Homo sapiens: one gene and its partners. The protein of the gene in region 2 purifies or fractionates together with the protein of the main gene of each other region. This does not show direct contact. Each region holds a gene or a part of one and is shown on either strand. Other genes may lie near its edges.

The links.
Region 1: the proteins of RFPL4B (region 2) and MIOS purify together in Homo sapiens (affinity purification with mass spectrometry; 4 studies listed by BioGRID and IntAct, with this or other methods). This does not show direct contact.
Region 3: the proteins of RFPL4B (region 2) and AMBRA1 purify together in Homo sapiens (affinity purification with mass spectrometry; 3 studies listed by BioGRID and IntAct, with this or other methods). This does not show direct contact.
Region 4: the proteins of RFPL4B (region 2) and ZZZ3 purify together in Homo sapiens (affinity purification with mass spectrometry; 3 studies listed by BioGRID and IntAct, with this or other methods). This does not show direct contact.

What each region holds. Positions count from the first base shown.
Region 1 is NC_000007.14:7,569,881-7,576,906, forward strand, and holds part of MIOS (GATOR2 complex protein MIOS), read left to right. Parts: intron 1-2,555; 5' UTR 2,556-2,595; coding exon 2,596-3,889; intron 3,890-4,217; coding exon 4,218-4,316; intron 4,317-7,026. UniProt on the Homo sapiens protein: As a component of the GATOR2 complex, functions as an activator of the amino acid-sensing branch of the mTORC1 signaling pathway. The GATOR2 complex indirectly activates mTORC1 through the inhibition of the GATOR1 subcomplex.
Region 2 is NC_000006.12:112,343,415-112,350,337, forward strand, and holds the start of RFPL4B (ret finger protein-like 4B), read left to right. Parts: upstream 1-3,915; 5' UTR 3,916-3,993; intron 3,994-5,778; 5' UTR 5,779-5,907; intron 5,908-6,189; 5' UTR 6,190-6,294; coding exon 6,295-6,923.
Region 3 is NC_000011.10:46,430,012-46,437,037, reverse strand, and holds part of AMBRA1 (activating molecule in BECN1-regulated autophagy protein 1), read left to right. Parts: intron 1-2,000; coding exon 2,001-2,189; intron 2,190-3,409; coding exon 3,410-3,564; intron 3,565-5,950; exon of another isoform or gene 5,951-6,147; intron 6,148-7,026. UniProt on the Homo sapiens protein: Substrate-recognition component of a DCX (DDB1-CUL4-X-box) E3 ubiquitin-protein ligase complex involved in cell cycle control and autophagy.
Region 4 is NC_000001.11:77,679,633-77,687,267, forward strand, and holds the start of ZZZ3 (ZZ-type zinc finger-containing protein 3), read right to left. Parts: upstream 3,027-7,635; 5' UTR 2,953-3,026; intron 1-2,952.

The DNA of each region.
Region 1 (7,026 bases), on a different chromosome or scaffold from region 2:
ATATACTCTAGGAAGTGGAAAGGACAGTGTAAAAGGACAGCAAGAATGTTGTGCCACAAGGCCGGTGCAGTAGGCAGAGACCAAAAGCATTTAGGGTTTTGTAGGTTATACTAAGAGCAGCTGAAGACCATTAGAGGGTTTTAAGCAAGGAAGGATAGCCTGGTCAAGGTTGTGTTGTAGAAAGATTTTTACTCTGGTATTCTATAAAGCAAAATTTCTGAAGGACCAGGGGAAAGATGAATAAAAGAAAAGCCTCCAGCACCACACACCAGATATGTTGTATACCTTAATTTACTGAAATCAGTTTTCAGAGGCTTGAGACTATCCTCTGTGTGGTAGCACTTGGAAGCCTGAGTGAGGAGACAAGATGATAAATAATTGGGTTGATCTAGGACTGGGGAAAGGCAAACCCAAAGTGGCAAGGAAATGAAGACATTGAGGGTGCTAGTAAGAATATTGAAATGATTGATCTTGGGCTTGAGAAATGCTAAAGAAGGAAATAAAACCAGTATAAGAATTCCTAAATCAGTGGTCCCCAACCTTTTTGGCACCAGGGACCAGTTTCATGGAAGACAATTTTCTCACGGATGAGGGGTGGGGGTGTGGTTTCAGGATGATTCAAGCGCATTACATTTATTGTGCACTTTATTTCTATTTACATTGTACTATACAATGAAATAATTATACAACTCACCGTAATGTAGAATCAGTGGGAGCCCTGAGCTTGTTTTCCTGCAACTAGATGGTCCCATATGGGAGTGATAGGAGACAGTGACAGATCATCAGGCATTAGATTCTCACAAGGAATGCACAACCTAGATCCCTCTCTTGCACAGTTCACAATAGGGTTTGCACTCCTGTGAGAAACTAATGCTGCTATTGATCTGACAGGAGGCGGAGCTCAGGCAGCAGTGTGTGAGATGAGTGGCTGTAAATAACAGATGACGCTTAGCTCCCTTGCCTGCTGCTCACCTCCTGCTGTGTGGCCTGGTTCCTAACAGGCCAGGGAGCAGAACTGGTCTGCGGCCCTGGGAGTTGGGGACCCCTGGTCTAAATTATATGAGTCTATGAAGTTTTAGACTGGTAATTCCCAACTGAAACTTTTGCAAGATCAAAAAGAAAAGCAATTATGTTTGAGTTGAACTATTTAGTGTATCCTTATTAGGAGTCTATGCCAGGCTCTATATATGGCACTAAGGATAGAGAGGTAAGTGAACCATAGCTTTACCTTATGAGAACTGACAACAGAGTTGTACAGATGCCAATTGCAATGAAGATTTTAAGTATGTTCATTCTTTTTGAATCTATTACCTTTTGCCAGCCTCTGTTAGAAACAGGCATTTAAATTTTTGTAGGCAACCTTAATTATTGAAACACCATTTTTAACTATAGCTATATTTAGTTCGTGTGCTTCTACTGCTAGAATATTTATTTTTTTCAAAAATTCTACTTTAACACTTATTCAAAGTTTGTAGAAGCGAAAACTGAAAGAGCCTCTAATGATCACTTAATCCACTTTCTCAGAGTGTGGTATGTGTGTACCACTGGTCATAAACAGGATGCTTTGTAGATAAAACACAATCAAGCCTTTTTAATAGTTATATATTTCAGTGTAGGTTAAAAATATATTTAGCATAGCATACCATGATTCATGGACCTTATGAAGAGATTAAAGTCAATTTTCAGATTTTAAAAATGAGTCAGTTTAAAGAAAAATATTAATGGCATAGGTGTTACATGACTGAAGTTTGGGAAATACTAATCTAAACCAGCTCCTACATTGTGTAGATGAGAAAACAAAGGGGTTCCCCACACACAATGACTTTTCTGAGGCATATAACTAATATACGGCAGAGCTAGGACTAGAACTCAGGTTCGTTCAGTACATTCCAGTGTTTATTCTGCCATACAAGGCTGATGCTTATTACTAAAGTTGAAGAAACCGCTGTCTTAGTATGACATTGTACTTTAAATCTCCATTGTTCATTACGATGACCACATATGGTTATTTATATTAAAATTTGTTAAAATTAAGGTTTAAAATTTGAATTAGTCACATTTCTAGTGCTCAGTAGCTACATGTGGCTAGTGGCTACCATATTGGACAGCATGAACATGAAACATTTCTGTCATTGCAGAAAGTTTTATTGGGCAGTGCTGCTTTAAACTATTGCTTAGGAATATGATTCATAAGTTTTCCCCCCTTCAAAGGGATAATACTTATTAATTTGCTTACCACACTGAAGTTGTTATAACTCTGAAGTTAAGCTGAAGGTACTAGTAACAGTGCAATTAAGATAATTGATCATGGGAAATATAGCCAGGATGGGATTCTCAGATTCCTACCAGCTCATTTTATTGGAAGTGGTTGTTCTTTCTCCTTTTTTTTCAATAAATATTTTCTTGAATTCATAGCAGATAGAGAGAAGAAATACAAATATATTGAAAAAGAGGGTTCTTGAATAGAGAATTTTCTGACTTTCTGAATAGTTTATTCAACGTAAGAATTATATTTTGCTGATATTTTAAAACTTTTTATTTTTAAACATTTTCAGTGAATGGACCTGAGTGGACCCTTTGATCACATCAGTAAACATGAGCGGTACCAAACCTGATATTTTATGGGCACCACACCATGTTGATAGATTTGTTGTGTGTGACTCAGAACTAAGTCTTTATCATGTGGAATCTACTGTGAATTCAGAACTCAAAGCTGGATCTTTACGTTTATCTGAAGACTCTGCAGCTACATTACTGTCAATAAATTCAGATACACCCTATATGAAATGTGTTGCCTGGTATCTTAATTATGATCCTGAATGTCTGCTGGCAGTTGGACAAGCAAATGGTCGAGTTGTACTTACAAGCCTTGGTCAAGATCATAACTCAAAGTTCAAAGATTTGATAGGAAAAGAGTTTGTTCCAAAACATGCACGACAATGTAATACCCTTGCCTGGAATCCACTGGATAGTAACTGGCTAGCTGCTGGTTTAGATAAGCACAGAGCTGACTTTTCAGTGCTAATATGGGATATCTGCAGCAAATATACTCCTGATATAGTTCCCATGGAAAAAGTGAAACTTTCAGCAGGTGAAACTGAAACAACATTATTAGTAACAAAACCACTTTATGAGTTAGGACAGAATGATGCTTGTCTGTCTCTTTGTTGGCTTCCACGAGACCAGAAACTTCTCCTTGCTGGTATGCATCGTAACCTAGCTATATTTGATCTTCGGAATACAAGCCAAAAGATGTTCGTAAATACAAAAGCTGTTCAGGGTGTGACGGTAGACCCATATTTCCACGATCGTGTTGCTTCCTTCTATGAAGGTCAGGTTGCAATATGGGATCTTAGAAAATTTGAGAAGCCAGTTTTGACATTGACTGAGCAACCAAAACCCTTAACAAAAGTAGCATGGTGTCCCACTAGGACTGGTCTACTTGCCACTTTAACAAGGGATAGTAATATTATTAGATTGTATGATATGCAGCATACACCCACTCCCATTGGGGATGAAACTGAACCCACAATAATTGAAAGAAGTGTGCAACCTTGTGACAATTACATTGCTTCCTTTGCGTGGCATCCAACAAGTCAAAATCGAATGATAGTTGTAACTCCCAACCGAACAATGTCAGACTTCACTGTTTTTGAAAGGATATCTCTTGCCTGGAGCCCAATTACATCTTTAATGTGGGCTTGTGGTCGTCATTTATATGAATGTACGGAAGAAGAAAATGATAATTCTTTAGAAAAAGATATAGCAACGAAGATGCGTCTTCGGGCTTTATCAAGGTATGGACTTGATACAGAGCAGGTGTGGAGGAACCACATTTTAGCTGGAAATGAAGATCCACAGCTCAAGTCACTCTGGTATACTCTGCACTATATCCTTTTCATTGTGAATTTTGTGAGGTGAATCAGGTAGAAATGTTCTTGAAGTTTGCCAAAAGGTCAGTCTGTAAATATGCTCAATGTTTTATATACAAATACAAGTTACATAATACTAACATTATAAAGTAAAATTGTTCTAAACTTTCGAACTTGAAATACTGCTTTGTAGATTGTGTAGGAGGAAGAAAAGTGTATCTCTGCAATAGAGTCGAACCACCTTATTTACACTGATACTTATTATGAATTGGCTCCAAATCAAAATAAATTTAGCTTTGAAATATATTGTCATGCATCACTAGTATTTCCTATGCATTTAAATACTTATGAAGCAATACACAGAAGATATGGATCAGAAATCTCCAGGCAACAAAGGATCATTGGTTTATGCAGGAATTAAATCAATTGTAAAGTCATCGTTGGGTAAGAAAATTCTATTTCATTTTCTCCAATATGTTTATAACTTTTGTACTTTTATTTTGCCCCCTGTCATTTGGCAGAAATTATCTAGTTATTTCAGGATCATGTACATAATTTTTTTTGTTTTCTGATTGGATATTTCATTGTATTGTTGAGTTAAATGCATACTTGTATTTATATCCAAAACCCTTTTTGCAGGGAGTCTTAATTCTCTGAAGTGATGTTGATCTTCTTAAATCTATCCACACGTTTATTCAATGTTATTTTTTTGAAAACCCACTTTGAGAGGTTTTACACTAGACAATTTACAGATTACTGATTGTTAGTTCAGGTTTTATCGCAACATTTTGCTTCTTAAAAACTAAAAAGATCTCTAATTGAAGGAGATCCCTTTTTATTTTGCTCCTCAAATACTTTCATTGAGCCATCTAACAGCAAGGAGTATGATATGAAATATGGCCTAACGTGGAGGAATTATACCTGATATAGTCCTTGGTTAATTAGTGAATGAATTAATTAACGTGTGAGTTAATGTAGGATTGAAAATTGGTATGGTAAACTATTAAAGAATAAAAGTGACAAAAACCAAACTTTTTTTTTTTTCTGACTGCTTTAAACAGTTGTTCCTATTCTTTTACTGGAATTGAATAATGGGTTATATTAGAATTGCAGGTTGAGTATACCTTATCCAAAATGGCTTGGGACCAAAAATGTTTCAGATACTTTCAGATTTTGAAATATTTGCGTTATATACTTAGAGATTGACCATCCCTATTCTGAAATCCAAAATGCTCCGATGAGCATTTCCTTTGAATATCATCTCAGCACTTAGAAAGTTTCAGATTTTGAAGCCTTTTGGACTTCAGTTTTCAGATTTGGGATGCTCACCCTGTATCTCTGTGATCTAGGATTCGTTCTCTAACTTTTGGTAAGTCAAATTTGGGCCCAAGTCAAGCTGTTAGAAAAGTAGTTAACATTATTTAGTCAAAGAGCAGTAATAGAAGTAGTAAATCCAATTTGATTTTTTACGGAGCTTGTATCAGTACCATACAAACAAAATACAAAATAATAAAATATTTTAGAGTAGGTTAAGTGTTTTAATTAAACTGTTACATTATAGTGTTTTTTTAACGTCTTTCAAATTACTTTGGTTCACTTTACTGAAAGATGCAGTAGACTACTTACTGATCAGTTTGATTTTATTGTTTTTGTATTAGCCCTCCACCAAAAAAAGTAACCTTTATTATAAATAGTAAAATGAATAAGTTTAGTTAGAAGCTGCTGTTTTTATTAACATAGGTAAAAGGGCACACATACTGTTTTACTCCCACAAATGAACCTGGTACCATGGTTCAAGATTTTAGAGCCATTGCCTATTGCTACAAAGAATTAAACACCAAGTTTATAGAATTTATAGTGTTTTAGCTATATAGTAGATCAGGCCACACTGCACTCAATTATTTAGAGGTTGGTTATTGTGTTTTTTGTATTTTGATATATTTTAAGGAAAAGCCAGCATCTGAGGAAAAGCAAAAGGGGAAAATGTAATATGTTTATGTTTCTGGTGCACTAGAGACAAACTGAGTATCCCACCCCTGTGTCAAAATAGTCTCTACCCAGACTAAAGAAACACTACTGTTGGAAAGATTTCCTCATTCATCATTCTCTCATTGCTAGGTTTTCAGCTTTTTTTTTTTTGTTTGGTATAGATATTTTTGTTTCTACTACCCAAAGGTGAAAAGTAGAGAAATACTGTCAAATATGCCACTCTTAGATTTCAGTCTTCTGTTTTATTTGGCCATACCTTTTCCTCTAATTGTATCTCTAATAATCAACACATGGTAAGTCAACACATTGAGCCATCTTGTCCACAGTAACCTAATACACAAGTTTATTAGAGCATACAGCTAAATTTTAATTTTGGTAACAAATAGTATATATATAAGTGCTTGCTATGAATTAGTTGCTTTTCCCATGTTACTTTAATTTTTACAACTACAATATGAAGTAAGCTCATTCATTCAGCAAGTATTTATTACCTACATGCATGCTATATGCCAGGAGTTATCCTAGGAACTAGAGACATAACTCTCAAGAAGATACATAAATCTCTTCCCTCATGGAGATTGAGCAGGATCAATGTCATCCCTGCTCTTGAGGAGTTTATATTCTAGTTTAGAATATAGACAAGTAAGCTGGCAGTTATAACATAGGGAAGAACAGACAGTTAATTACAGGAAGGACTCCTAATCTGGTTGCAGGGATTAGAGGTTTCTCAGAGGAGGTACAGTTAAAGACAAGGTCCAGACAGGGAGCAGCATGTGCAGTGGACCCAGAGGGTAGAGAGCATAGCACATTATTATGGCTGAAACAGAGCATGAGAGAGGAAGTGAGGAAAGAATGGAGGCTAGAAAGGTAAGCAGTGGGCTAACTCAAGAAAGACTTAGAAATCATGTTAAGAATTTAGGGAGATTCATCTTGTAAGACGGGGAAACAGATGGATTTGTGACAGATTTGTGTTTTAAAAGGATCAAGATTGATAGTAGGGATATCAGATAGAAGCCTGCTGCAAGGAGGCAAGACGTGATGCTATCCTTACCAAGGTTAGTAGCAGAGGAGCTAGAGAAATGTGGATACATTAGAGAATAGGAGAAAATTTAATGATTAATTAGATAAAGGGGTGGAGAAGATGGAAAAGTCAAAGGTAGCACAC
Region 2 (6,923 bases):
GTGTGGAAGTGGAGCACTCTACATATCCTAAGTGCCAAAAATATTCCTCTTCATGAAATTCGCCAGATCTGCAAAACACAGCTCCTTTTGAAGAGAAGAGCCAGGGAACTCCATTAGCAGGCTTTGATGGCATTAATAATTCAGAGAGATGCCCTCTATCTTCTTTAAGATAGACAGAAGGGTCCCTTTTAATGTATAACCAGGCAGAAAAGAGGAGAGGACACGGGTGGGAGAGAAGAGGAGGTTGCAAGCCAGCACCTGCCCCACACCAGGGGATGGAAGCTAATTGTGAAAAGCTGCCCCACTACAGCTGCTGCCTCTTGAAAAATGCAAACTGTGTTTTGAGCAAACATATCATCCACTTGTAAGTATCTTAGATTCCTGACAGATCTGATTATTCCCTCCTCCCCACTAGTGGCTTCATCTTATCTAATTAGCATGTGTGAAAGTTGATTCCTTTTTTAATCAGGAAGCTATGGAAACAAAATTAATTTGTGATTTAATCTTAACTCATGGAAGCATTAATGATAATTAAAAATTATTTTAAAAATTAAAAAAATTTTCATGCACATTTTTGATATGTTGTCATGAGAGTATTAAGATATCACAGATAAGTGGCTTCCAATATTTCCAGCACTTGAAAATTAAAAAAAATGGTGCTTCTCTCTGAATTCAGTATTCCTGTAATAATGGAGAATCTGGGAATCAAAGTGAGTACTTCTGGGAAAAAAAATATTTCTCCTGGCAGACAAAAGCTTAGAGGCATGAAGTCAGTGTATGGTCCAGCCACAGTCAGAGCTGGCTGAAAAATGTAAGAGTCAGTAAGGAATGATGTTTTTTGTTATTATCAACATCTGTTGAGGGCCTAGTAGGTGTTATTCAGTGATAGAGAAAAACTTGATTTGGAATCATCACTGCAGTTAAATAAATTAAATGGAAAAGTGAAAAAAGCCTCATCATTATTGGAAAAAGGAGAGAAAATGTTCCATATTTAGCCATATCATATGTATTAGTTTTGAGATGGCAGAAGCCAGACGAAAAGATGGCTGGATGCATCATTAGAGTTTTTGGTTACCAAGGAACTAAGATTTGCTGCTGCCACTTAGAGTTATAGAATTTGTAGTAGGGCAATGATCTTTGAATAGTTTAGAGAGGTCCTGGAGGTCCCTGAGACACTTTTAGTGAGTCTGCAGAATCTTCCCTTTTCCAACTAAACATCTGTGGGAAGCCACATTTTTTTTCACATATTTAAATCAAAGCAACATATCACAACAGGTTCAGCAAAAGTAGATGTAAGAATCCAGATGTCTTTTATTAAGCAAAAATTACAGAGGTTTGCAAACATTCAAGACAATGGAACTCTTCTAAGTAATTGTTTTTGTTTTAGAAAATAGTTATTTGTTTAAATAAAACTATATTATTTATGTTAACATGTAATAGTTTTATTTTAATTAATTAGAGCTTTAAAAAATTCTCAGTTTGAATTTCTAATATTGTAAATATGAAGAAATATAATTCATATGAACAAAAAGCTTTTTGGATTTCTCATTTATGTATAAGAGTGCAAATGATATCACCTTACACCTGTAAGAATAATTTTTTCTTTCTTTCTTTTTTTTTTGAGACGGAGTCTTGCTCTGTCTCCCAGGCTGGAGTGCAGTGGTGCGACCTCGGCTCACTGCAATCTCCGCCTCCTAGGTTCAAGCAATTCTATGCCTCAGCCTCACAAGTAGCTGGAATTACAGGTGCCCGCCACCACGCCTTGCTAATTTTTTTATTTTTAGTAGAAACGGGGTTTTAGCATCTTGGCCAGGCTTGTCTTGAACTCCTAACCTCGCGATTCACCCGCCTTGGCCTCCCAAAGTGCTGGGATTACAGGCATGAGAAAAAAGTAAATAAATAAAAAAGAGAAGAGATAACAAATGCTGGCAAAGATATGAAGAAAAGAGAAACCTCGTACACCATTGGTGGGAATGTAAATTAGCACAGCTATTATGAAAACTAGTATGGGGGTTCTTCAAAGAACTAAAAATAGAGCTACTATGTGATCTAGCAATTCTACTTCTGAATATATATCCAAAGAAAATAAAATCAGTACATTGAAGAGATATCTGCTCTCCTATGTTCATAACAGCATTATTCACAGTAGCCAAGATAGAGAATCAACTTATATTCATCAACTGATGAATGCATAAAGAATCAGGATATTCCTCAATAGATGAATACATAAAGAAAACATGGTACATGTACATGATGGAATACTATCGAGTCTTAAGAAATTCTATCATTTTCAACAACATGGAACCTGGAGGACATTATGTTGAGTGAAATAAGCTGGTACCGAAAGGCAAATGCTGCATGATTTCACCTATACGTGGAATGGAAAAAAGTAAAAAAAAATGAACTCATGGAAGCATGGAGTAGAATGGTGGCTACCAGGCACTGGGATGAAAAGAAGACTGAAATGGGGAGATATTGGTTAAAAGGTACAAAATTTTCAGGTAGATAGAAGGAATACTCTTTGGAGATCCATTGTACATCATGGTGGATATAACTAATGATAATGTATAGCACACCTAAAAATTGCTAAGATAGTAGATTTTGAACATTTTCATGACAAAATGATAAGTATGTGAAGTGACAGATATGTTAATTGGCTTGATTTAATCAGTTCACAGTGTATACATACATCAGACAATTAAAAAACAAATAGTAAATCTGGGTAAAGAATATATCTCTTTTTACTATTCCTACAAATTTTCTGTGTCTAAAATTATTTCAAAATAAAATGAAAGAAAAAATAAAATGACATTTTTGAATAATTAAAAAAGAGAGTGTAAGGATTCTTGAGATTAAAATCTCAAGTTTAAAGGGTCTTGAGATTACAATTTAAAAAGTTTGAGCTCCTAAACTTATGTGATCTGCCCACCTTGGCCTCCTGTAATCCCAGCTACTAGGGAGGCTGAGGCACAAGAATCACTTGAACCTGGGAGGTGGAGGTTGCAATGAGCCGAGACTGAGCCACTGCACTCCAACCTGGGAGACAGAGCAAGATTGTGTCAAAAATCAAAACAAAAAAAAACCCCAGCAACGCTTGAGACCTGCTCCTGCAAGTATTTAACTCACAGAAAAGGAGATAGCACCAGGTAAAAATGAAGTAAAAGCTGTGTAAGCTGTGTGTTGGGCCTTGCAGAACAGGAAGCCTGAGAAAGGAGAGGTTATTTAGAATGCAGCCTCTCTTGGGGAAAACGTATATTCCAGCGATCCTCTCTACAATGGGACTTCATTCACCCTCCAAATCCTTTTTTGGAAGTTTGTGTCTTAGCTTTCCTCTGTTGTGACTTTTACTGCTCCTTCTGCTCTCGATACAGACACCATAAAATTTACCGTTCATCCAAGAACACTTTTGAGAGTAAAAAATGGAATTATTAATAATTACAGGACAATAGCCTTGCCTAGCTGCCATCTTTCTTATCCTGTCCAGTAAGTACCCCTAAGAGTAGAATTGTTGAGTCAAAGGACATGAAAACTGTTGTAGATCCTGTCCGCTCATGATTCTATCAGGAATAGGAACACCAATGATTACATTAGCCACGAGGTGATTAGGTTTCAGCAGTGCATTTCTGTATTTGATCTCCAACACATTTTGCTTTTTAAAGTTGAGTTCTGAAATTAGAGACAAGAGCAGATGGCAGTAGATTCACTCTAATTCAGGGAGTTATTAAGAAATTTTGAATTTTTTTACTATATAATTTGAAGCCTGCTTTAATGTCATCATCATAAACGGAAGGGTGGGTTGATGAGTTTACTCAGATTAGAGTGGTACAACCTTTGGGGCGGAGCCTCTGACTCTGATTGGTTGGACAATGTTTTCCAGGCAGTATAAAAACGCTGGTGTCTCTCCGCGGAAACTCCGAGAGGAGCAGAGGTCTGTAGAGGTAGAGACGTAGGCTTCGGATCTTTTAGAATTCTGCTGGAAGTCTCCAAGTCAAGGTAAGTTATACCTTCTGTTTAAGCTATTTCCAATGTCCTATTCTGTCTTTGGCTACAAACTGGTGTTTTCGAATGCCTTTAACTATTTATTTTAGAGGAGAAAGAACTAGTTTTTTCCTGTGCCAGGGAGCTTTCTTCACCTTTAACTATAACTTTGCCATTTAAATTTTTACATATGAACCTCAGGTCACTCTTTGCATGAACTTGTATTTTTATGTGTTTTCAACTACAATGGATTTAAATGGTTTTAAAATGGTTTCTTTTTATTTTCCAACATTTCTTAAAAGATTTCTGGGTTTTCGGCCGGGCGCCATGGTTCGCGCCTGCGCTTTGGGAGGCTGAGGTGGGTGGATCACGAGGTCAAGAGACCAGCCTGTCCAACATGGTGAAACCCCGTCTCTACTAAAAATACAAAACTTAGCCGGACGTGGTGGCACATGCTTGTAATCCCAGCTACTCAGGAGACCGAGGCAGGAGAATTGCTTGAACCCGGGAGGCAGAGGTTGCAGTGAGCCGAGATGGAGCCACTGCACCCCCAGCCTGGGCGACAGAGCAAGACTCCGTCTCAAAAAAAAAAAAAGACTTCACTTCGGGTTTTCACTTAAATATACTTGGCCACTTTTAGTAGTTGTGTCATAATTAGCTGAATCATTTTATTATTGTTAGATAATTCGATTGTTCCTGATCATTTGGGATGGTAGTTAACACTGAAATGAACAACTTGTGAATAAGTGTAGCATTTTTTTTCTTTTGTAAAATTGTTTTCTTAGATACATTCCAAGGTGGGTTAGGCAATTAGATTTCCAGCACCATGTTAAATTTCCCATTAAATTGAAAAAGATAACAGAATTTAAGAAAGAGGTAATCTCTGGTTGTCCGCCAGCCAGGCACCATGAGATTGGAATGCTGATCAGGACTTGGAAGACAAAGTTTTATGTGGGCAGATACCCTGTTTATTACACACGTTTGTGTTTCCAGAGTCCAGTTGAGGCCAAGAGCACAGAAGGGGCTCAATAAGTATTTGTTGGAAAGAGATTAGAGAATGTGTTCTGGGATGTAGGACAGTTCTAGTAACTCAGTCTTAGGCTGGCCTCATCGGTGTTCATCACTTCCTCTCTCTGGTAATGTTGATGCTGCTCCTCTTTCTGTCCCTCATTCTGTTACTACTGTCACCACTGAATGTGTGATTTGTGGGTTCTTGGTAAGGAGTTCTGCTAGTTACTGCTCAGTGCAGGCTCTTATTGGAGAACAGTCCTCTGTTCACATAATCTCAAAGGTGCTGTCCAGCTTTGCGAGGCTGTCTTTGGGTCATGGGTCTAGCCTGGTCCAATATGCTGTGCCCAGCATGTCAGAGACAGCTCACTCAAAGAATAATAGCCATGGTGGGAAGTCCTCTGGGAGCACCAGAGGCTCTCAAGCTTTGGGAGCAGTTGGGGTAACAGGAGGGCATCTTCCTTGTCTGGAACATCTTTTTGGTTTGTATTCAGGCATGATTATTTTGGAGAAGTTGATGACTATTATATTTTTATTCACATTAATTCAAGCCTTAATTAGTTTTCTTAGAGTGCTTTAAAGCATTTCATCTAATAACACTTTGTCCTTAAACTTGATTCTTTTATGGGCTTCTCATTTTGCAGTGGATTTTGCTGGCTTTACTCACATGTGGTAATTTTCCTGGAAATTCTGAGGATTCCTTAGAGTCACTTTTCTGTGATGATTAATGTAGAATTGGCTTTATTTTCATTATTGAATTTAGACATGAACATTCTTTTTCCTGAACTGCAGAGGATCTACAAAGAAATACTGAGTGGAGACTATACTGAGATTCTGTTAAAGACCCACTTGAATTCAGCCCCCATTAGGAGAAACTTTGGCCGGAGCAGCCAACACATCACCTGGAAGTCTTCAGACTAGGTAAGCTGCACTGTCTGAAAAGAAAGTTTCCACTGTCCTATTTCTGTCTTGTGATTATCTAGAGTTTGAAGAGTTTCGAAATCATTTTTATCACCATGACTACATTACTGTGATTCTCTAGCAATTTAGTGTCACTTTCATACACAAACTGCAGAAATATTATTTTTTTGTTATTCTTAATTTCTTAGTTAATAAATTTATTATTATTTATTAAATAATATAATTCATTTATGTATGCCAATAACTTATTTATTAATTTATATTATTTAATCTTGGATTTAGACTATTGAAGAGTGGATTGTGTACTGAGGGCTCCCAAGTGCTTCCAGAAGCCAATAAAGGATCACTTCAGTTTACTTCACGGCTAAGGAGTAACCCTTAAGAACCATGGCCAAACGCCTGCAAGCAGAGTTGTCCTGTCCAGTTTGCCTGGATTTTTTCTCCTGTTCCATTTCTCTCTCTTGTACACACGTGTTCTGCTTTGATTGCATCCAGAGGTATATACTAGAAAACCATGATTTTAGAGCGATGTGCCCCTTGTGTCGAGACGTGGTGAAGGTACCTGCTTTGGAAGAATGGCAAGTGAGCGTCCTAACACTTATGACCAAGCAGCACAATAGCCGACTTGAGCAAAGTCTGCACGTGAGGGAGGAGCTCCGGCATTTTCGGGAGGATGTGACCCTGGATGCAGCCACTGCCAGCTCCCTCCTTGTCTTCTCCAATGATCTAAGAAGCGCTCAGTGTAAGAAGATCCACCACGATCTGACAAAAGATCCCAGGCTGGCCTGTGTCCTGGGTACTCCCTGCTTCTCCTCCGGCCAACATTACTGGGAGGTTGAAGTGGGAGAGGTGAAGTCATGGTCCCTGGGCGTCTGCAAGGAGCCGGCTGACAGAAAGAGCAATGATTTATTCCCTGAGCATGGCTTCTGGATCAGCATGAAGGCAGGAGCAATCCATGCTAACACCCACCTGGAGAGAATTCCTGCAAGCCCTCGCCTTCGCCGTGTGGGAATTTT
Region 3 (7,026 bases), on a different chromosome or scaffold from region 2:
GGATCTATGTAACAGCAAGATAGGAAAGTCTACTTTAATAACATACCCAACAGACATTTTCGAGACATTAAATGTAGATAAAATGGTAACTGTTCAAAGCTGTCTTAAAGCCCATAGAGTCTCATCTCCTTTCCTATTTAGGTTCATGTACTACTTAACATTTATGATTTCTTTATTTTCTTTCTCTCCCTGCTTTTGGTGGTTAGAGTGTAAATTGTTAGTTTCTGTTTATTTTTCTGAGCATTGTCAGCCTCAGAGTTAGAAAACCAAGATGGTCTCACTTCTGAAACTTCTCCCAGTTCCTTTGGTTCTATATCCCCAGCTGGATTCATGTGTTGATCCAGAAAAGGAGAGGGATATTGCCGTGTTTTGTTTTTGTTTTTGTTTTTGTTTTTGTTTTGGCAAAGGGCTTGGGACCCTGAGTAGTAAGTAGCAGACGGTCCCAGTGCTAATTAGATAAATCTAGCCTTACAGGCTAGACCAGATGGTGGGTTGGGAGTTGAGCAGTAGAAAGGCCTAATGGTGATAGCAGTGAGTATTTGGATATCATTATTTTATTAGTTAGCAAACAGAACCATCCTTGTGGTCCCTCTTCGGTTTTATGTGTAATGGTGCTGTAGGTGTCAGCCCCCGAGTTGGCACAATAGCCTAATCAATGTATTCTAATGCCTTTTTTGATATACACTGTCATCTCATTAGCAACACACAGGGAAAGGAGAACAAATAGAGTTTTACAAATCACTCTTAAGTATCAGATCACATAAGCCTGGGGGCCTCTGAAAGAGCAATTCCTTGTTTTGTTTTCCTTGAGGTAATTTCCTAGGGAAACTTGCCCTTGACTTTTTTTGGATTACTGCAGTAGATCACCTGGACTCTGGCGAGGGCAGCTGAGCTTGGCTTTTAAAAAATTACCACAATGCCTCTGACAGTGGACATCTCCTTCAAATAAGAGAAACAGTGAAAAGTTTTTTTGCTTGAGGTATATCTACATGAGACAAAGCCCTGATGAGCTTGGTCTGTTTGAATGTGTTGTGCTGTTCTGCCCGGGCCCATGATGTGGGCACTCTTGTTCTATGCTCACATCAAGGGTAAGCCACTTCTTCCTGGCAGGGAATCACACGGTGGGACTCAGAGGGATTCAAATGAAAACCGAAACAAGGCCTATAGGCACAGTGCCAGTTAACATCTCATTGGTGCTGTTGTGTGGAGTGGATGCTCCTCACCAACAGACATTCCTCCACCCTCAGATCTTGCCACCTTACCAGGCTGAGCCTGCTGCCTGCCTGACCCTGCAGTTTGTTCTCAGGAGCTGCAAAGTGCAGACTAGGGCTGTCATGGACATTGGCATAGAGCATAGTGGGAAATGAAAAGAGCCCTGGCCATCCAGCCGCAGCTGGGCTTTGTTCTGTTTCCTCTCTTGGTAGAGTTAGAGATTAGTATTAGCAAGGAGCTGTTCCAGAAAACTGGTCTCTAGATGTTCCAGTTCTCTTTCTCTTAAATGAGAAAGTAAGATACAAATTTATGAAATGACTTTCTTCTCCAAGGTCACATAACAGGTGTTGAATAGGATTCCTGCCCCAAGAAAGCTCTACCTGTATCATCTTTTTCTTGGAACCAGTGGGTTTGCATTTTCATTTATCTTGGTTTTGATCTCTGGGACAATAACAGCTGTTAAATGGCTCTCTAGGAATAATTTTTAATAACTTTTTCCTTATCTAATCTCTCAAGCGGTATTTCCTAAATGTGAACTAAGACTCAGCAGGTGGTTGTGGTGGTGTTGACTATCCTATAGTTTCCTGCTAAGGTGGGAGAAGAGACATACTTTTCTTGCCTCCTGTGTTTTGTTCATTTGACATTTTAGTTTGAATGAGAAGGTATTCTTTAGCATTTCTAGACAAGGTTCAGGCCCTTAGGAAGTCCCTAAAGTTTCTTGGCCCCAGAATTTTTACAGTATCAACTCCAAAGTTTCTTATCCTCTTTTCTTTCTTTGTCTGATGCAGCTTCCGTGAATGTGCTGGTGCAGAACTGCAAGATCTACAATGATGCCAGCTGTGACATTTCTGCAGATGGCCAGCTCCTGGCAGCTTTCATCCCCAGCAGCCAGAGGGGCTTTCCTGATGAAGGCATCCTGGCAGTGTACTCCCTGGCCCCCCATAACCTGGGCGAAATGCTCTACACCAAGCGATTTGGTAAGGGATAGGAAGCCCAACCTAATGACAGAGGGACGCTGGTGCCTTGGCATGGTCATTGCTAGGTGAGGCACAGCTTGGGTGGGAGTAATGGTCACATACTGCCCCTACCTTCACTGGGGCACAGGCCAGAGAAAGATTGCTTTGCAGGAGTGCTGGCTAGTAACATTGCAGAAGCATCTGAGCATTAGAGTCCTACCGCATGCCCCTGTTACGACGGTCAGGAATAAGGGAGGAGGTGGTTGTAGCACACACATGCACTGCAAGACAGTTTGGCATTGTGTATTTAAAACCTCCCAAAATGTGTCAGCTCTTTGGCAATCCAGCTTTTAAGGAAATAATCAGAAAACTATACAAAGATTTACATACAAGGGTGTTCACAGCAGTGTTACCATACAGAAAAATGCCAAATTGTTGCCTTGAGACTTTTTTGTTTGTTTGTTTGTTTGTTTTGCGGGAGGGTGGGGTGGGTGTTTTGTTGGTGTCACCTTGAGTTGAATTTAAGTGTTTTTTGTTTTTTTTTTAAGAGTTGACTAAACAAATGATGGTGCAGTGATAGAACTGCTCCATTGGCCCTTAAAATGCTCTTACAGAACAGTGTTCATAATGTATTAAATGAAAAAGGTGGGTTTCAAAATAGTAATTACAGGATGTTAACAATTTTTTAAAATGTTGATAACAACGGTTAGCATTTATTAAGTACTTTCTTTCTTTTTTTTTTTTTTTTTTTTTTGAGACGGAGTTTCACTCTTGTTGGCCAGGCTGGAATGTAATGGCGTGATCTCAGCTTACCGCAACCTCTACCTCCCGGGTTCAAGCGATTCTCCTGCCTCAGCCTCCCGAGTAGCTAGTATTACAGGCATGCGCAACCACGCCTGACTAACTTTGTATTTTTAGTAGAGATGGGGTTTCTCCATGTTGGTCAGGCTGGTCTCAAACTCCCTACCTCAGGTGATCCCCCGACCTCGGCCTCCCAAAGTGCTGGGATTACAGGCATGAGCCACCGCGTTCAGCCTTATTATGTGCTTTCTATATGTCAAACACTACACTCAGTATGTATATGCCTTCTCATCATACTCCTCACTACAGTCCTATGAGATAACACCAGGATGAGCAAGTGAATATGAAGATTAGAGAAAAAGACAAGAGTAAGAGTGAAAGTTGTTTCCTTGGAATGGCCAGAAGCCTAGGAAATATTTCTCTGTTTTGTTGGCCCTCAGGTCCCAATGCCATTTCGGTGAGCCTGTCCCCAATGGGCAGATATGTAATGGTGGGCTTGGCCTCACGAAGGATCCTGCTGCACCCCTCCACAGAGCACATGGTGGCCCAGGTCTTCAGGCTGCAACAGGCCCATGGTGGAGAGACCTCCATGAGGGTGAGTGCCATTGCTTGTGCCTTCACTGTATGGCAGCTCCCCTAGGCTTGGAAGGGTAATGAGGGGACAGTGGTGTGACCTCCCAGCCAGGACCAGAGCTATCACACAGTCATAAGGAGTAAGGAAGGGCTGTAGTCAAGCCCATCCATGACCAGCAGGCTTCATTTGTGGAAGCTCTGGACTATCAAAGGCCTTTCCTCACACCCTAGAATATGTGCTGCATTCCCCAGAGGCCTGCAAGTATCTTCAGATAAACTGAATACTTCCTTACTTCTACGTGAAACTTTTAATCTGGAGATGCATAAAGGACCCAATGAAATGCTTATTTTTAAAGCTTTTTGTGTGTGTGTGTGAGGGAACAAGCTGTAAAAAGTAATAGTATGCCATGAAATGTTTTTTTTCTGTGGGTTATAATTATGATGGAAGATGAAGACTTTAGGCAGTTGCTGTATTCTTAATCATCCCATTCATTTCACCAGTGGAGAAAAGGTCCTGTCTAGGACCCTGTCTTGTCTAAGGCACGTCTCTCTTATATTGCCATAAAAGCCTTCTGGGCATCCTGTGGTTCGTGGCCTTTTGGCCTCAGCCAGACTAACGTGCCTGAGTGAACGTCCCACGTCCCATAGGTGCTCATTTAGCCAGGGTTTTGTCAAGGGGATTCAAGCATTTGAACAGTTCTCTAATTAGATAGTATTCAAGCTTTGTCAGAATCCAAGAACCTGTGAATTTCCTTAGTACTTTGTGCAATCTGTACCATTTATAGTTGGATGTACTTGTTGGTCCATTTTTTGTCTTCTTTAGCTGTGTAGCGTATGTGTTTAATCCACCCAATTCGGTTCAGTGTAAGCTCCTTAGAGGGATATCCCTCAGGTCCCTCATTTAGTGCTGTGCATGTAGATGGCTGTTGAATATCTGGAATGGGAAGCATTTGTTTTAAATAAAAAAACTAGAGATAGCACCCATTATATACAAAGTGATAGAAAGTGGGTGGCCTGGTGTGGTCCTTTCCTCTCCAGCCTCTTCTCCCTCCTGTCTCCTACAGATATCCTCTGTCCAACTACACTGAGCCACTTTTCAAGCTTCTTGAATTTGTCAAAGTGCCTTCTTGCCAGGGTACCTTTACTTGGAATGCCCTCCTGTCCCCTATCTCCAGCTACCTGCAAGCTTTTTACTTTCTGTGGCATCCATCTTAATAGAATTGATCACTCGTTCCTTGTGCTATCATTGTACCTCTTACACATTCTCATGTCAGTACTTGTCACACCAAACTGCAGTTATTTGTTTCCATGTCACTCTCTTCTCCTGGGCTGTGAGCTCCTTGAGAATAGAGACTGTGTCTGTTTTATCTTTATGAAGTCCAAGAACTTCATGCGGAACCTGACACTTAGTAGAAAGTGAATGAATGAATGAAAGAGAATCTCAAAAAAAAATAAATAAATAAAAATAAAGCATCCTCTTTATCATTTCTAGGTGGTAACTAGCAGAACCAATGATGGGTAACATAACATCATGTCCCACCAAGCTTCTGAAAGGAAAACAAGTCATTCTGTCCTCTTGATATCACAATGACAAGAAAGTTCTGATCTTGAATTCCATATGGCTGGAAATATTTGACATTGGGTGAATAGGAGATGTCATTGTGGGATGTTCATCAAGTCTATTTTCTTATCTAGATATTTGAGGATGGAAGTTGAGTTTTCATTTAAATATTCTTCTTTTGCTTCTCTTAAGCAGAAGCTGGTCTCTGCTTTTCACCACCTGGAATCCCAGTCCCAACAGCTGCTCTTCTAACCCTTCCGGCCTAATTGTGGAATAATCGTTTAAATCATTAAGAGACAGAATCTGATGTTGGTAGCTCTGACAGACCTCTCTAGCTTCTTTCATAAGCCAGGGCTCTTGCCCAGCTCCTGCACACAGCCTGCCAGTTCTCCATCTTAGCACAGTTCCACTTTTCCATAGTAGCCAGAAACATCTGGCTGAAGACAAACAGTTACAAAGCAGAAGCCAAGGTGATGGGATCTGTTGTCACATATGGGGCTGGCAGCTCAAGGAATGTGGTTCTCTGCTGAGGAGATGTGGTAATCCAGTCAGCCCCTGGCTGTCCTGCCAAGGGTCTCAAGGCAGCTAGCCAGCAGCTGCATGCTTGGTGACTGGAGCTACTACTACTGCCAGGCTGCCTGGTGAACCTTTTTTGATTCTCAGTAGGTACCATCTGCCACCAAGCACTAAGAAAGGGAGCTGAAGTACCTAGAAAGTTCCCATTTGGGAAGTGTTCCTGTCACCCAAGAGACAGGATCAAGGCATCTCAACAAGGTTTAGGTCAACCAAGTGTCCACCCAGTCTGACTTTAAACCCCCATGCTACAGAAAGGTTTCTGGTTTTCCAGGTCTTGGTTGCCCCTTACGTCCAAAGGCACCAGATCACTCAGCAAATGTCCCTGAATTCAGTGATTGGTGGAAGGGAAGACACCAGCTTTTTTGGATAGCTGTGCTGTATCACCGTTTAAGGCAAGAAGTGAATTTTTGTCTGAGAACAGGGAGCAAGGGTTTAATGGGACAGTACAGCATCTCCCTCTTTGCACAGGTAAGTATAGGTGGGTGTCTCCATCTCTAATGTCAAGCTCTGACCATAAAGGAATGCTTTAGTGGGTAATGGGCCTGTCCTAGAGCTTTGCTACCCAGAATTCCCCTTCTGTCTGGTGTTACCTCTTGGAATTCACTGTGGTAATGTTCAGAGAGGCAAATGTGTTGGGCCAACAGACATTCCCAGGAGAACATCCTCCAGAGCATTGATTTATTTTAAGATGGCACTAAGTGACATCTCTCCCCAAGAGATGATCTCTGACACAATCCCATATGAAAACTCTTCTGAAAATGAATTGCTAATTGCTATTAGCCTTGATGCACTTACTCTAAGCAGTTCTTCAGACTTCTGGATCAGTGCTTCTCAAACTGTGGTTCTTGGACAACTTACAGTAGAACTACATGGGTCCTTATTAAAATACAGATCCATTTCAGACCTAAAATCAGAATAAGAATGGGAGTCAGAGGGACCCAGGATTAGTATTTTTAAAACAAGATTTCTTCATTTTAGGTGTCTGCCCTCAGCCTCCTCAGCAAGGCAGAGTCAGTCTCAGGTCTACTTGCCATTGTGGTTTTGTGCATGGTGCTTTGATTCTTTGCTAATTATGTTGCAGGCACAGTGGTGTTTGTCTTCTGTTTCCTACCAAACTCAGCTTTTTTGGCTGTCTGCGCCTCACCTCCCATCTTTTCTAGGCTGTTGCTGCTTTCCAGGTTTCTCCCTTGAATAGCTGTATGTGCTGGAGTCTTTTCTTTATGTTGAATCATTTTAATTTTTGTCCTTATTTCTAGGATCTAGGGTCCTTTTGATCTTTCCCTTCTCTGTTTATCGTGCTAGTCCTCCCAGTTTTAATGATGGGTAAGTCAGGAAAGTAAGACTGGG
Region 4 (7,635 bases), on a different chromosome or scaffold from region 2:
ACCTTAAGGAAAAAACTCAAGTGAGAATAAATCAGTATTATTATATTATCACTGTTAATAGTTTCCTCTGATCACTGAAGTTCATTAGCTCTCATCATTTATATGACCGTAATAATTGAGAAAAGTGAAAATTAAATTTCTTGGTTATTTAAATTTTACTCAACCAAACACAAACCATGTAAAAATACATTTTTCCTCTTCCTTGGATTTTTCTCAGTATATTTCTACCAAGTACCTCAAATAATTTCGTGTCTGTAAAAGACTGGTATTTCCCAAGACCCAATACTGAAAAGTTTATAAAACAAAAGTTCTAAGAACAAGGAACATATATTATTTCATAGATCAGATGCACGTGGACTATTAAAGGCCCAGTTACCAAGCTAAACTTATGTAGATACCTTTGCAAAGGCCATTGTAGAACTGTGACCTTCAAACTCATTGTCATTTTCACAATTTCCCACTTCTAAAAATAATAATAAAACGTACTTAACAAATGTTATTTAACAGAATAGCTTTATCTAAAGTAAAGAATTCACAAGGTTTCAATTAAGTATAACCTTAAGCTGCTGACTTTTATGACAGGAAATATCTAGCAATTCTGTGAATAGACCCAGAACTATCTAAAAAAGAATAGGAGGAGAAAGTTGCCTCAAATACCGACTCGGGCTGTCCTCCAACTATTATGAGCCTGACTATTCTTGCACCATGGCTCTTGCCTCACTGTCAACCTTCTACATTCCTCTTTTCTCCCCAACTTGTCCAATTCCATTTCAGTATCAACCTCTACACTCCCAATGTCCCCTTTTCCTCTTTCCAACATCATACCTCTCAACACTCACTTCTATTCCTCAACATTTCTACTTGCACTGTTACAACAAAAAACCACATTGCCCAAAGAGTGGACAATTCTCTTATGTGACTGGTCTGATAAATATTATTACTGGTAGGTTTGGCGGGGGGAAATTACAAAAACAACACTTACAAAATGATAGCCGCTTAGCAACTTCAAGTATATATACCTTTGTTTGTACTAACTACTAATGTCTACCACTCTCCAATTGAGATCACTAAGTTGCATGGTCAAACTATCATTTTAATCACAGTGATAAACTTTTAAAACGTCTGAAAAACTCCTATATAGTTAGGTTACAGTTTAGAATATATAATATATAAAGTTAAATACATAACACACATTAAAGATAAAAATATAAAACTCAAGTGATAAAACATTAATTTATTTAAATCTTGTTTTACATGTACTTTCTTTCTGTGCAAAGCTACCAAGCACAATAAATCAACTTTACTGCAAAAATAAGTTACTTGTGATATTTTCACAAGATTATACTACCAAAAAAATCAGTACAAACAAAAAAAATCTGCGTAAGTATGCATACGTAAGTCTTGACAAACAGGCATATATCACTAAATAAAAATTTAATTTAGTTAAAAAATGTTTACTGATTGCCAATATTGTGTTGGTACCCCATTAAAACAACACTTTCTCCCCTTCATTTAAGAAACAAAAACTAAACCAAAATATGGAAATATCTGGAATGATACACAGCAACCACAAAGGCTGGTTACAGAGATTTAAGACTGAGGAATGGAACTTTGTGGTACCGTGAAACAAGCACTGTGTTACTCTATACTATATACCTCTCTGTATTATGTATAGGAAAAAAAAACACTTTTGTAGTTTTAAAAAACAAACTATGAATAAATTAACTAGTCACCTGATTCGTTTTGTAATTAACTCCCCACTCCTTATTTAGTACTGCAACTACTAAATAAAATCCAAATACTACTTAAGAATACGAAAAAACAAAGGTATACTGTAAATTCACTTCTGAGACATTAGGGAATTGGAGAGAAATATTAAATTGATTTCAAACTCATTTAAGAAAAATAAAGCTCAAACTCTGATGCCAAAATTTATGAGTTTGCTCTTTACTAAAAAGTTGACCTGAGGCCGGGCGCGGTGGCTCACGCCTGTACAGTGCTGAAATCCCAGCACTTTGAGAGGCCAAGGCAGGTGGATCACTTGAGGTCAGGAGTTTGAGACCAGCCTGGCCAACATGGTGAAACCCCGTCTCTACTAAAAACACAAAAATTAGCCGGGCGTGGTGAAGCGCGACTGTAATCCCAGCTACTCGATACTCGAGAGGCTGAGGCAGGAGAATCGCTTGAACCCGGGAGGCGGAGGTTGCAATGAGCCGAGATCGCCCCACTACACTCCAGCCTAGGCGACAAGAGCGAGACTCCGTCTCAAAAAAAAAAAAAAAAAAATCACATGAAACAGTCTGTTACCTTAAATATATAACCTAAAACAACCATCCCTAAACTTCAAAGATGGCAACCTCAGTAACACAGTAGTAATTAAAACCCTACCGATAACTGAGTTAATAGGCACGTACAAAATGATGAAAAGCAGGATTTTATTCTGACCACAGGTGTTGTCAGAGACATAATGGGCCCTCCAAATACTGCCAAAAGTTACTGAAAATACGAAGTCAGGGTGATGAGTAAATGACACCCAGAGAAAATAGATGGGAGGAGTTCTGTTTCAGGAGACTGGAGTCAGGTACTGCAGCAGAAAACGCGACACAATAGTTAACCGGTCTGGAATACTTTAGAAAATGGCAAGAAGGGAAAAACTGACAAGAACATCTTAAAGTAAGAGGAACGGTATCCAATGGAATCATCAGGTCTGCGCGAGCACGGCTCCCGGACTTCCAGTGAGTGGGACAGGGTGGAACTATCACTGCGTGGGGAGAAGGACCTGGCTGAGGGGTGCATATGCTTTTGCAGGTGGTGGAGCGCCCGCAGGGGGATGGGGAGGGCAGTGTTGCCTCAATGGGGTTACTGTATTCCCTTCAAGACTATGGGAAGCTGATGCAGCACGTATCCCGGCACCAAGAGGCACTCGCCCCGGGCCCCTCCCTAACGACTTGCCTTGTAGAAAGAGTTGCAGGTCCCAGGCCCCCGGAACCCAAGGCTCCGCCATCCAGGACAACTGCTCTGCCAACGAGGTCCCGCGAGAATCGAGAGATCTCGCGATACAAACCCACTCGCATCTCGCGAGCTTCCACTAGACCCAACATGGCGGTACAGAAAAAAATCAGTATTTCGGAACTTAAAAAGCACTTCACTAACGGAGTAGTGAACATTTAAAACACTGAGACAGTAGGAAGTCTTTCCGCTTTATACGTCTCCTCCTTTCCCCTTGTACAGAAAAGCAGAAATCTTAAAAACCTCCGATTACCACGATTATACTACATAAACAGAGCGCAGTGCGCTGCCCCAGGCAGCCTCCCTGTCACGTGGAAACATTTTCGGCGTGCCCGTCACGTGGGCCGCTACTGAGCGAGCGCGCTCCCGACGCCCTCCCAAAAGCCCTCCCCGCCCCCCCTTTCGCCCGCGCACACGTGCGCGCGCACCCCCGCCCCACGTGGGGGCTTCGCCGTCGCAGCCGTCGCAGCCGTCGCAGTCGTCGCCTCCAGCCCACCCCCTCCCGGTACTTGGCTCCAAATCCGGGTCCCAAGCCGATCGTTTCCCACCCCCATTCCCTCCCCCTTCATTCTCCCTCCCCCGTGTCTGGCCCTCACCACGTGTCCCGAGCTCTTGCTCACCTTTCACGCGGGGTCGGACGCAACGGGCCACTTGGGGAGGCGCCGCCGCCGTGGCCGCTCTCCGCCCCCGCCACGGCACTTGCTCGGGTGGCCACCGCTGCAGGAAGCTCGATAGCGGCGCCGCGGCGCTTCCAGGTGGGTCCCCGCCTCCCGCTCCTGCCACTTCCCGCAGCACCAGCGGCTCCTTCCGGTCCCCTCCTTTCTCCTCGTTGGGACTGGCGGGCGGCGGCGGCGGCGGCGACCGCTGCTGCTGCTGTTGCTGCTGCTGCAGGCGCGCTCACTACACCGCCTGCTGGTAACCGCGGCCCGTGCAGCGCCCGCGGGTCGGGCGCCGCCGAGGCCCTCCCCGGCCAGTCCCTGCCCCTGGGCGAAGTTTGGTCTTCCGAGGGCGGGTTGCAGTCCATCCCTTGCAACCGTCCAACCTGGCCCTAGCAGAGGAAAGGCGTCCTCGTAGCTCCGCCATTGGAAATCGGCTTCATCCTGCCCTTTGTGGCCTCCTGAGAGATTTGTAAACCCCACCTCCCTTAGCACTGTGGTCTCAAGCCAGGAGAACATCCATACATGTATTTATGATCGTGCTTCTGCCTCGCCTCGTTCACCTCTGGCTTGTACCACAGCACGCAGGCTCGAACCACTTCGGGCCTTTGTGCTTGCCGATTTCTCTGGCAGAACATTTCCTCCAGATTTTTTTTAACTCCTCGATGTTCGATGCATATTTCAGGTCCCTTCTCAGAGGGCTGCCCAGACCACTGTATCCAAAAAAAGTACACCTGCACCATTGCTTTAACTCTTCACCTGCTTTTATTTCTTCATAACAGTTACAACTTCCAGACCTTATTTGTCAGTATCCTCACCACCAGAAATGTAAAATTTTTAAAAGCAGGGACTTAGTAAACTGTTTTGCTCATTGCTGTATCCCCAGAATTGTGTCTGGCACAAAGCAGTGCTCAGTAATATCAAAACAGATCTACCAACTATATTGAGCATGTAGGAAAATAAAGCCCAACACACATTAATGAAGATAAATAACTTCATCATTTATGAGCTGTGGAAAAACAGCTAAACCTCCTTCCGTGGCTATAAAGATTATGTTCCAAAAATATAAAATCCAGTGGTAGAAGCCGTTAACTGGGGCTCTTCTTTGACAATTGTCCAGTGCTGTTTCATTACTTTTGTTTTCCTTTGCAACACTATTTTTTTTTTCGGGCAAGTGGATACGTGTTGTGCCTTCTTTTATGTTGCTAATAAAAGTTATTAAATGTTTTAAATGGTGTTTTGTATTTTAGCTTTGAGTTCAACTCAAAGTAACATCTACTTCAAGAAAAAGGGTTACATGTTTTTAACACATCAAGTATTTATTGAACATACTAGTGTTTCTGGGTGGCAGTATGTCAAAAAAAAACGGGGGTGGGGGAGGCCGGGCGCGGTGTCTCAAGCCTGTAATCCCACCACTTTGGGAGGCCTTGACAGGCAGATCACCTGAGGTGTCAGGAGTTAAAGACCAGTCTGGCCAACATGGCGAAACTTCGTCTCTACTAAAAATAGAAAAATTAGCCAGGTGTGGTGGCACACGCCTGTTATCCCATGTAATCCCAGCTACTTGGGAGGCTGAGGCAGGAGAATTGCTTGAACCCGGGAGGTGGAGGTTGCAGTGAGCCGAGATCGTGCCACTGCACTCCAGCCTGGGCGACAGAGCAAGACTGTCTCAAAAATAAAAAAGGAAAGATAAAACATACTAGTGCCCTATGCTAAGACTAGAGATACAAAAATAAACACGTTTCCCTACCTTGCTCTTTCTACTTATAGAGCCAAATCCTATTATAATAACCATACTTAGCATGCTTTTGATTCCTATGTGCCAGGCCAAATGCTGTGTACTTTTCTATGTTACCCTATTTTAGGCTTCTGACAATCCTATGAGATATATACTATTTGTGGTAGGCCTTGAGATGCACTTTTCAGACCCCACTTCAGGAATAAAGAACTGAGCTGCTGCTGCCAAGAGTCATACCCACAGCCAGCCATCGGTTGTCAGCCCCTTTCAGGCATGCCAGTGTCACAGAGTCATAATGTTCTCAGAGAGGCCACATCCAGTGACTGATCAATGCAGGGATAAAAGGCTCAGCCCTCTCACCTCCATTTGGTACAATTCTGATGGATTTTCTCCTCCTGCAGAACAACTTGCAGGATCAGCTAAGGCATTCCATTGAGACTTCACTGAAGTCCAACTTCTGCCCAGTTCAGCTTTTCTTCCCTCCCACAAGTAATGATCCCAAGAGCATTCCCTAATAAATCTCCTGCACACTAGTCATGTAAGAGTGTGCTTCCTGGGAACCGAGCCTGTAATATTATTTGTATTTTTCTATTGATAAAGCAAGTAACTTGCCCATTTGAACTGCAGAAGTTTCTATATAGATACATAAAGTACTGTGGGAGGGGAGGAGGGCTTCTGGGAAGGGCTTCTTACAAGGATTGGCATTTAAGTTACAGGATGACTTTGCTAAGAAGAAAAAAATAATTCTTGGATGAGGGAACTGCATGAATGAGTATGTGAATGGGAGAAAACTACAAGTAACCCCAAATGGCTGGACTGTAGGGTCTTTGGGGTAATCCCTACAGGATAAGGAGAAAGCAGTTCATGGATGGTAAAGAGGGTAGCCAAGAAAAAACTCTAGGCCTGAGAATAACTCTTAGCCAAGTGGAAAGGGATGGGAGCCCCTGAGATCCTCAATTAAGAGTAGGAAAGAGAAGCTTCATTGCTCCTGGAAAAGGGAACCACTGCCAACCTTGCTGGCAAATACCACTCCCTAATTACGACATGTATATTCCTACATGGCCTTTGTTATTTTTTTTTTCTTTTGGAGACAGGATCTCGTTCTGTCGCCCAAGCTGGTGTGCACTGGCACAGTCTAGGCTCACTGCAGCCTCCTGTGTCCCTTGTAGCTGAGATACGCACCACTGTGCCCAGTTAATTTTTGTATTTTTTATAGAGATGAGGTTTTGCCATGTTGCCCAGGCTGGTCTCAAAACTCCTGGCCCCAAGCTTCCACCCACCTCAGCCTCCCAAAGTACTGGGATTACAGGCGTGAGCCACCACGCCTGGCCCCCTTTGTTATTTTGACCTAGGATCACGTTATATTGAAGATGGAAGATACATTAACATCAACTAATTCAGCAGTTTGTACAATATTTTCTGAAGCACTGGAAATTTCTTGTATACTCATATTCTTATGCCAGGATCCAATATTTGAGCCAAATAAAACAGGACCTGGGAGGAGGCAACCAGCTGACATTTTCCTCAGTCCCTTACCACGACACATAAGATGCTACCTCAGAACACACTTTGAAAATCATTGATGTAGTTCATTCTTTCAACAAATATGCCAGGTGCCATACAAGGTGCTAGAGATACAGTGGTGAACAAAGCAAGCACAGGCCCTACTCTGACAGAGCTCACAGTCTAGGGAGGGAGGCTGACATTTAAAATATAATCACATAAATTCAAACTGGTTAGTACCATTCATGAAAAGTGCAGGTCACCCGTCTGGGAAGTGAGAAGCGCCTCTGCCCAGCTGCCGCCCTGTCTGTAAAGTGATGAGCCCTCCTGCCTGGCCGCCCAACTGTCTGGGAAGTGAGGAGCGCCACTGCCCGGCCACTGCACCATCTGGGATGTCAGGAGCCCATCTGCCCGGCCCGCACCGTCTGGGAAGTGAGGAGCACCCCTGCCCCGCCGCCTCACCTTCTGGGAAGTGAGGAGCACTTCTGCCCCGCCCCCATCCCGTCTGGGAAGTGAGGAGCACCTCTGCCCCGCTGCTCCACCATCTGGGAAGTGAGAGCACCTCTGCCCCGCTGCTCCACCGTCTGGGAAGTGAGGAGCGCCTCTGCCCTGCCCTCCCCCCTCCACCCCCCCCCCACGCCCCCCGCCACCCCACCGTCTGGGAAGTGAGAAGCACCTCTGCCTGGCTGCTCCACTGTCTGGCAAGTGAGGAGCGCCTCTGCCCAGCTC